Linked DNA regions of Homo sapiens: region 2 is linked to region 1. The links come from fine-mapping of genetic effects on gene expression. A gene starts in region 1. The other region holds a variant in brackets. All regions are shown on one strand. Distances are from middle to middle. Region 1 holds the start of COQ4 (coenzyme Q4). Region 2 overlaps DNM1 (dynamin 1).

Region 1 (4,000 bases):
GTGGCACAATTTCGGCTCACTGCAACCTCCGCCTCCCGGGTTCAAGTGATTCTCCTGCCTCAGCCTCCTGAGCAACTGGGACTACAGGCGCCTGCCACCACTCCCGGCTAATTTTTGTATTTTTAGTAGAGACGGGGTTTCACCATGTTGGCCAGGATGGTCTCGATCTCTTGACCTCATGATCCACCCTCCTCGGCCTCTCAAAATGCTGGGATTACAGGCGTGAGCCACCACGCCTAGCTAGATTACTTATAATGCCTAATATAATGCCTATGCATCACCTTGAGTGGATTCAACACAGTACTAGGTGCACAGCAAATTCAAGTTTTGCTTTTTGGAACTTTGTGTTTTTCTTCCCAAATACTGCCAATCTGAAGCTGGATCATGGGATGTGGAACTCATGGACTCAGAGGCAACTGTACTTAGTGACACGTGAAAATTACCTGAAGTTCAAATATGAATATTCATAAAGTTCTATTGGAATACAGCTAGGCTCATTCCTTTAGATACTGTCTATAGCTGTTTGGCACTACATTGGCAGAGTTGAGCAGTTCCAACGGAAATCACATGGCCTGAAAACTAAAACATTCAGTATCTGGCCCTTTCCAAGGAAATCTGCCAATTCCTGGTCTAATACCTCACTCCTCTGTGGACCTTCAAGGGCCTGGCACAGGAATCTGAGCACTGGGACACTGACTCGGCTCAGGGATTTCCTGGGAAGTGACACACAGGATCCTGCTTAAATCTGCCTTACCCAGTGGATGGTTGATGAAAGAGGGTACGCTGGTGGCTGTGAGGGTCAGCTCCTTCTCTTCGCTGCCTTCCATGGGGCCCAGCAAGAAGCGAACACGCTGTTTAGGAGCGGGAGGCTTCCTGGCATTGAGACCTGAACACACAGAGATAATATATACACACATACATACAAATATATGTACATATAAAATATTTTTTAAGAGACAGGGCCTCGTTCTGTAGCCCAGGCTGAAGTGCAATGGCGCCATCATAGCTCACTGTAACGTCAAACTCTTGGGCTCAAGCGATCCTCCTGCCTCAGCCTCCAGAGTAGCTGGGATTACAGGCGTGCACCACGATGCTGACCAGGAATATCTTGTTCTGTCCAAACACTTGGGGGATTAGACAACAGGGAAGTATGATGTAGAAGACAAAGCAGAAGCCCATGGTGCAGAGGGCAGTATAGCAGTAGTTAAGAAACAGGCGGATTCAAACAGACTCTACAACGTAGTAACCGTGTGACAAGGAACAATACTGAGTCAGTTTCCCCCTCGGAAAACAGAGGAAAGTGAGGAGTAAGAAAGCACAGAGAACAGGCGTTTGGGAAAGCGCTCTGCCCAGGTGAATAGGTCACGTGATTTTGTTTTGGGGTAAGGACCAGAAGCGGAGATGGACTTCCAAGAGAACGAGAGCGGGAACGTGGGTCTGGTTCGAGGCACTCACCCTTCAGAAGTTGTAGCTCCACTGTATCCCGCAGGTGCTTCCATTTTAGCCCCGGGGGCTTATAGACCGCGAAAAGCCCATGCAGCCGCGACAAGCCAGCAGACCCCATACTTGAAGATCACAGCACCCGCTGGACCTGGACGGAAGTACCGCCAGGCCCCGCCCCCAAATGTGGTCCTTTCCACGGGCGCCGCCATGTTCCACAGCCGGAAGAGGTTCGCATTTTATAGTCTTCGGGGAAAACCGGCTGTGGAGAAGGAAATAGGGCCCGGCGCTGAGTGAGCGTGGTTGCGTGTCCTTTGCAGACACTTTCTGGGGCGAGGTGACATGGCGAGAGTCTTGGATCGGTGGACGTAGACGGTAGACAGTTCGCGTGCGTTTCCTTCGCCTACTTGGCCTACATGCCTTCTGCCCGTGAAGCGATGTTTCCCCTCGAAAGGCCGTAGGCTACGCCGTCAGAATCGGTTTTTCAGTGAGTTTTGACCCCTCCGACGCTCCGTCGCCTGACAGAATCGCGGCGTTCTTCGTACCCGCCCATCCTCCGCGGACGCCCGCTGCCATGGCGACTCTGCTGCGCCCTGTCCTCCGTCGGCTCTGCGGGCTCCCGGGCCTACAGCGGCCTGCGGCAGGCAAGTGGCGCCGGGTTCTGGGCGCAGGCGGGAAGGAGCCTGAGGGCGCCCGGCTCCTCTGACCTCGGCCTTTTTCTTGCCCCGCAGAAATGCCCCTCCGGGCTAGGAGCGACGGCGCCGGCCCGCTATACTCGCACCACCTCCCCACCTCCCCGCTGCAGAAAGGGCTGTTGGCCGCCGGCTCCGCGGCGATGGCGCTCTATAACCCCTACCGCCACGGTAAGGCCGCCCGCGCCTCGCCCCCGTGGGGGCGGCTTGGAGCCGTTTCCTGTGGGTAACTGGAACATAGCCTAGGTCGGGGTACCCAAACCTGGTTGCAGCTCGTAACCACTCGGAACGTTTATGAAAATGCAGATTCCTGGATCCCACCTAAACGCACTGAATCTGAATCTGAATCTGCAGTGGAGGGAGAAATGGGCGTGAAACCGAAAGTCTGTCTTTAAACTACTTGGGAGAATCTGTCATGCAGCCATATTGAGAACATCTAGACTAAATAGATGATTCATAAGTACCGATCAGTTTATAATATCCTACTAGAAAGTCAACTCCGAGGTCGAGGACCATGTCTGCCTCGTTCCACTGCATCTGCAGCCTTCTGGATAGTGCCTGGCACATAGTAAATGCTCAATAAATGTTTGCTGGATGTGTGACTAGAACATTCTAGGGTTCTACAGTGTTTTTCTTATGCCTCCTAGATTTTTGAGTTCTGGGAAGTACTGTTATTCCTACTAACAAAAACAGGCTAGGCGCTATTATAGTGGCTCACGCCTATAATCCCTATCGGGGGGCCGAAGCGGGCAGATGGCTTGAGCTGAGGAGTTTGAAACCAGCCTGGGCAACACGGTGAATCCCCATCTCTACAAAAAAAAATACAAGAATTAATTGGGGCTGGTTGCATGCGGCTGTATTCCCAGGCTGAGGTGGAAGGACCATTTGAGCCGGGGAGTTCGAGACTGCAGTAAGTTGTGATTGCGCCATTGCACTCCAGCCTGGGCGACAGAGCGAGACCCTGTCTTAAACAAAAAATACACTATATCTCCATGTCCCCAGTGGTTTTTTGTTTGTTTTGTTTTGAGACACAGTATTGCTCTGTGGCCCACGCTGGAGTGCAGTGGCGCAATCTCAGCTCTATGCAACTTCCACCTCCCAGGTTCAAGCGATTCTCGTGCCTCAGCCTCCTGAGTAGCTGGGATTACAGGCCTGTGCGGCCTGGCTAATTGTTGTATTTTTAGTAGAGACGGGATTTTGCTATGTTGCCCAGGCTGGTCTCAAACTCCTGACTTCAGGTGATCCTCCCACCTCGGCCTCCCAAAGTGTTGGGATTACAGGCATGAGCCACCACGCCCGGCCAAGACCAGCGAATTTTTTAATTTTTTTGTAGAGACGGCGTCTTGCCACGTTGCCCAGGCTGCTCTGGAACTCTTGGCCTCAAGTGATCCTCCTGCCTCAGCCCCCCAGTGTTGAGATTACAGGTGTCAGCCGCTACACTTGGCCACTAAGTGTTATATATATATGATTTTCATGGTTTCTCACATTAACCAGCTAAGAAAGGTGTTGTCTGCACTTCACAAATTAAGACACTGAGGCTGAAAAATGTGAAGCAGGCCAGGCATGGTGGCTCACACCTGTAATCCCAGCAATTTGGGAATCCAAGGTGGGAGGATCACTTGGGGCCAAAGTTCAAGACCAGCCTGGGCAACATAGCAAGACCTCATCTCTACAGAAAATTTAAAAAACTAGCTGCATGCCTGTAGTCCTAGCAGTGAGCTATGATCACACCACTTCACTCCAGCCTGGGCAACAGAGCAAGACCCTGTCTCAAAAAAACAAAACAAAACAGAAATGTGAAGCAATTTGTACTAGGTCACCTAGATAGTGAACACACCTGGACTGTAGCCCAGCATCTCTGATGCCTA
Region 2 (4,520 bases), 83 kb before region 1:
AGAGACAGGGTTTCACCATGTTGGCCAGGCTGATCTCGAACTTGTGAACTTGTGACCTCAAGCGATCTACCTGCCTCGGCCTCCCAAAGTGCTGGGATTACAGGCGTGAGCCACCCCGCCCGGCCTGTCCTTGTTCTTTTGAACAGCTGCAGGGTGCTTTCTTGTCTAGAGAGTGTCATAATCTATTTCACCCTCAGATGGCCACTGGCTTGCTCCCAATTTTTCTCTATTACAAACTGTACTACTTTGAATACTCTGGCTCATGTATCTTTGCTCACTTGATGAGTGTATCTGTGAGATACAATTCTGGAAGTGAATATGTGCATTGTTTGTTTGTTTGTTTGTTTTGAGATAGGGTCTCGCTCTGACGCCCAGGCTGGAGTGCAGTGGTGCCATTATGGCTCACTGCAACCTCTGCATCCCTGGGCTCAAGCGATCCTCCCATCTTAGCTTCCCAAGTAGCTGGGACCACAGGCGTACACCACTACACCTGGCTAATTTTTCTATTTTTTGTAGAGACAGGGTTTCTCCATGTTTCCCAGGTTGGTTTTGAATTCCTAGGTTCAAGCAATCCTCCTGCCTCGGCCTTCCAAAATGCTGGGATTACAGGCATGAGCCACCATTCCCTGCCCTGTGCATTTTAATGTTGTTAAATATTGCCAAATTGCCCTCAGAGAAGGTGATACTGATTTACACTTCCATCAACAATATATGAGAGAGCTCATTTCCCAACACTTGTGTCATGCTGATCATTTAAAAAGCCTCTGTTTGTTTGTTTGTTTGTTTGTTTGTTTGTTTGTGACAGAGTTTCGCTCTTGTTGCCCAGGCTGGAGTGCAATGGCACAATCTCGGCTCACTGCAATCTCCACCTCCTGAGTTCAAGTGATTCCCCTGCCTCAGCCTCCCAAGTAGCTGGGATTACAGGCATGTGCCACCATGCCCATCTAATTTTGTATTTTTAGTAGAGACGGGATTTCTCCATGTTGGTCAGGCTGGTCTCGAACTCCTGACCTCAGGTGATCCGCCCACTTCGGCCTCCCAAAGTGCTGGGATTACAGGCATGAGCCACTGCGCCTGGCTAAAAGCCTCATTTTTAACTTACATTTCTTTATTAATGAGAGTAAGGATTTTTTACACATCCTTAGTGGATGTATGCATTTCTTCTATGAATTATTCATCATGTTCTTGACTATTTTGATTTGTGATTTTCTTTTTTTTTTTTTTTCTTTTGAGGTGGAGTCTCACTCTGTCATCCAGGCTGGAGTGCAGTGGTGCCATCTCAGCTCACTGCAAGCTCCGCCTCCTGGGCTCACACCATTCTCCTGCCTCAGCCTCCCAAGTAGCTGGGACTACAGGAGCCCGCCACCACGCCCGGCTAATTTTTTGTATTTTTAGTAGAGACGGGGTTTCACCGTGTTAGGCAGGATGGTCTCGATCTCCTGACCTTGTGATCCACCCACCTCGGCCTCCCAAAGTGCTGGGATTACAGGCGTGAGCCACCGCACCTGGCCAATTTGTGATTTTCTTTCTTTCTTTCATCCTCTCCTCTCCTCTCCTCTCCTCTCTTCTTTTCTCTCAGGGTTTTGCTCTGTCTTCTAGGCTGGAATGCAGTGGTGCAATCTTGGCTCACTGCAGCCTCAACTTCCTGGGCTCAATCAATCCTCCCTCCTCAGCCTCCCAAGTAGCTGGGACTACAGGCACATGCCACCATGCCTAGCTACCTTTTGTATTTTTTGGTAGAGACAGGTCTCCCTATGTTGCCCAGGCTGCTCTTGAACTCCTAGGCTCAAGCAATCCTCCCACTTCCACCTCCCAAAGTGCTGGGATCACAGGTGTGAGCCACCACGCTCAGCTTTTGTCTTTCACTGATGGTAGGGACTATATTTATTATGGATACTAACCTCCTATATGTGCTGCAAGTACTTTTCTCCCAGCTTGCCCTGCATTTTAAAACTTTGTGGTGTCTTTTGCGCTTGCCCACCAACCTATGTATCCTTGAAGGTCATGCTTCTCATCGATATCGAGCTGGCTTACATGAACACCAACCATGAGGACTTCATAGGCTTTGCCAAGTGAGTGCTCCCCCAGGCAAAAAGTGAGTGCTCCCTGGGCAGAGAAGGTAACGTGTGTGTGTGTGTGTGTGTGTGTGTGTGTGTGTGTGTGTGTGTGTGTGTAGAGCCCAGGTCTGCTAGGTTAACCCTCTGGGTCCTGTGCCCACTAAGCAGTGGGCAGTAGAGCTGGGCCTCTTGAGAAGTTCTGAGACTCCTCCCCTCCCTCCCATTAGTGCTCAGCAGAGGAGCAACCAGATGAACAAGAAGAAGACTTCAGGGAACCAGGTGAGTGGGGCCCAGCACCCCAGCCC[G/A]AGGGATGGAGGGTGCCGGACGGACACCAGACTCTGAGAGCCCCCTCCCCTGAGGGGAAGGGTCCCACGGGGGCCAGGGACCTGTCAGCTGCCAGCCACAAGCCTCCCACTCTGCCTCAGTAACCCTCTCTCCTCTCTCCCCGATGCCTCTCGTGGTTGCTATGGTTACCTCTTTGCAGGATGAGATTCTGGTGAGTACCAGGACTGGGGCTCTCGGCTTGTGTAGTGAGGGGGCGGAGGGTCCATCGGCAGTGGGGATCTGCAACGGGTAGGAGGGCACCCTTTGGCTGAAGCTGCTTGTACACACCAGCCCCTGGCATTTCACACCTGCCCTCAGGCCAGAGGCAGGCCCAGCCGCATCCACCCGTCCATCTGTGTGCACGAGCCAAGCACCTACTTCAGGCAGAGCTAGACCGTGTGGGGCTGGGTGGGTGAGAAGGCTGGGCCTGGCACGGAGTAGGTGCTCCTTAAACATCTGCTGGATGGAGGGATGCACGTGAGCAAGACACATTTTTAAGAAGCTGACAGCCATCGCCTCCGGACTTGAATGAAGAGACGAATGAGAAGTCAAGAGAAGTCAAGAAGTCACTGCTCACCTGGCCTCCTGCTCTCTGTCCTTAGATGTCTGCGGAAACATCCCTCGTCAGAAGCGCTTGCTCAGTTGTACACATGAGCCCGAGGGTCCTCAGCTTTTCTTTCCATAGGTTCCAGAGGCCGTAGTTTCTTTGTAAGACTCTAGGTGTTTATGTGATTATTGGCTTAATGTCTATTTCCTTCCCAGGCCCCATAAGGGGAGGGCTGAGTCTGTCCCGTTTATCATTAAATCCTCAGCTCAAGCCCCTAGCCTGGCACGCAGTAGGTGCTCAACAGAATGAAGGGAGGAATGAATGTAGTATCAGGACAATTCAATTCAGCCAACACTAGCTGGTGCCTACACGGTGCTGGCCCCTGGACAGGACGTGGAGACCTGGGCCTGCTGGTAGGGCCCAGCTAAGGCCCCTGAGAGCTCCATGCAGGGTGGGAGTTGGGAGAGCAGGAGGTCCCTGGTGCAGGGCTGCAGAGAGGGCTTAGGATGAGCAGAGAGGAGTTCAGGGCTGGGTGTGGCCAAGGGGGAGGACAAAGACTACAAGTTAGGGTGGGGAGCAGGTGGCAAGATCTGCTGGTCACATCGTGGGACACAGTGGACTCAATTCCAAAGACAGTGACAAGACCCTGTGGGGATCCTCGCCTGATCAGGAAGGGGTGAGAGAGGCAGCTGGTGTTCTCCCCTCAGCTCAACTGCTGCTGGGCTGTGCAGCTTGGGTTCTCAGCGAGGTTCTCAGGGAACCAGAGAGGCATAAGGAGGGCTCCAGAAGCAAGCCTGGCCCCAGAGGGCTTTGCCGCCAGCCCCAGGCCTCCTTGGGTCTTCTCTGGATGCTCAGAGAAGAAGCTGGGGAGGTCAGCGTCCAGGAGGGAGCAGAAGCAGCTGCCTCATCCTCTCGATCTGACCCATGACCAGTACCTGGCCAGTGACCCTACCCCTGAAGTAGAATCCACAGGCCCTGGACCGTGGCCATGGCTCTGGACAGTCCTGGGGACAGCTGCTTCCTGCCATGAAAAGGGACCTTAGCTTGTTACTCTAGGCACTTTGTGGCTCAGCCCTTGCCCCTGGGGACCTGGAGCCAAAGACCCTTAGAACCGTACTATCATAGCTTTTATTTATTCATACTACAAATATGTATTGATCACTTACTATCTGCCAGGCCCTCTGCAAGGTGCTGGGATGTACTAGTGACCAACAGTTCATGATTTAGCAGGGGAGGCTGCATCGACAGATAATCACACACACGCACGTAGAGAAGTTAATTAAAAATCGAAGCCCTTGTTACAGAAGTCGACTTCAGGGAGTGATCAAAGATCATTATGGGAATCCTGATTTATACTGGGGGACAGGAAGGGGCTGCCTGAGAATGTGAATCCTGAGCTGATACTCAAAGGCTGAGTAGGAATTTGCCAGGCAAAAAGGAAAAAGTGCTTTCTAGGCAGAGGCGGCAGCAGCATGTGTAAAGTCAGAAACACATCTCAGAACAGATGAGACCTTAAGCTTCCAAGACTCGCAGTTGGCTTCCCCAATCGGCCCCATAAACTCTGCTTGCATACTTTTAGTGACAGGGAGCTC

Evidence for each region. PIP is the estimated chance that this variant, and not a neighbour inherited with it, causes the effect. A credible set is the group of variants that fine-mapping cannot tell apart.
Region 2: its variant is the best candidate, but not a certain one, in a credible set for the expression of COQ4 in whole blood (TOPMed, PIP 0.51).

The regions. Positions count from the first base shown.
Region 1 is chr9:128,320,845-128,324,844 of GRCh38, forward strand. COQ4 (coenzyme Q4) reads left to right here and starts at 1,995. Exons shown (of 7, transcript NM_016035.5): 1 at 1,995-2,084; 2 at 2,172-2,303. The coding sequence starts at 2,015. It overlaps TRUB2 (TruB pseudouridine synthase family member 2), which reads right to left and starts at 1,603. Exons shown (of 8, transcript NM_015679.3): 1 at 1,456-1,603; 2 at 755-886. The coding sequence starts at 1,564. RefSeq lists an enhancer at 1,303-1,842 and a silencer at 2,223-2,282.
Region 2 is chr9:128,237,444-128,241,963 of GRCh38, forward strand. DNM1 (dynamin 1) reads left to right here. Exons shown (of 22, transcript NM_004408.4): 12 at 2,002-2,072; 13 at 2,285-2,336; 14 at 2,542-2,553. Among named protein-coding and RNA genes, the nearest start is that of MIR199B, 5.1 kb to the right of the region's middle. The variant G/A (reference allele first, on the strand shown) is at 2,363.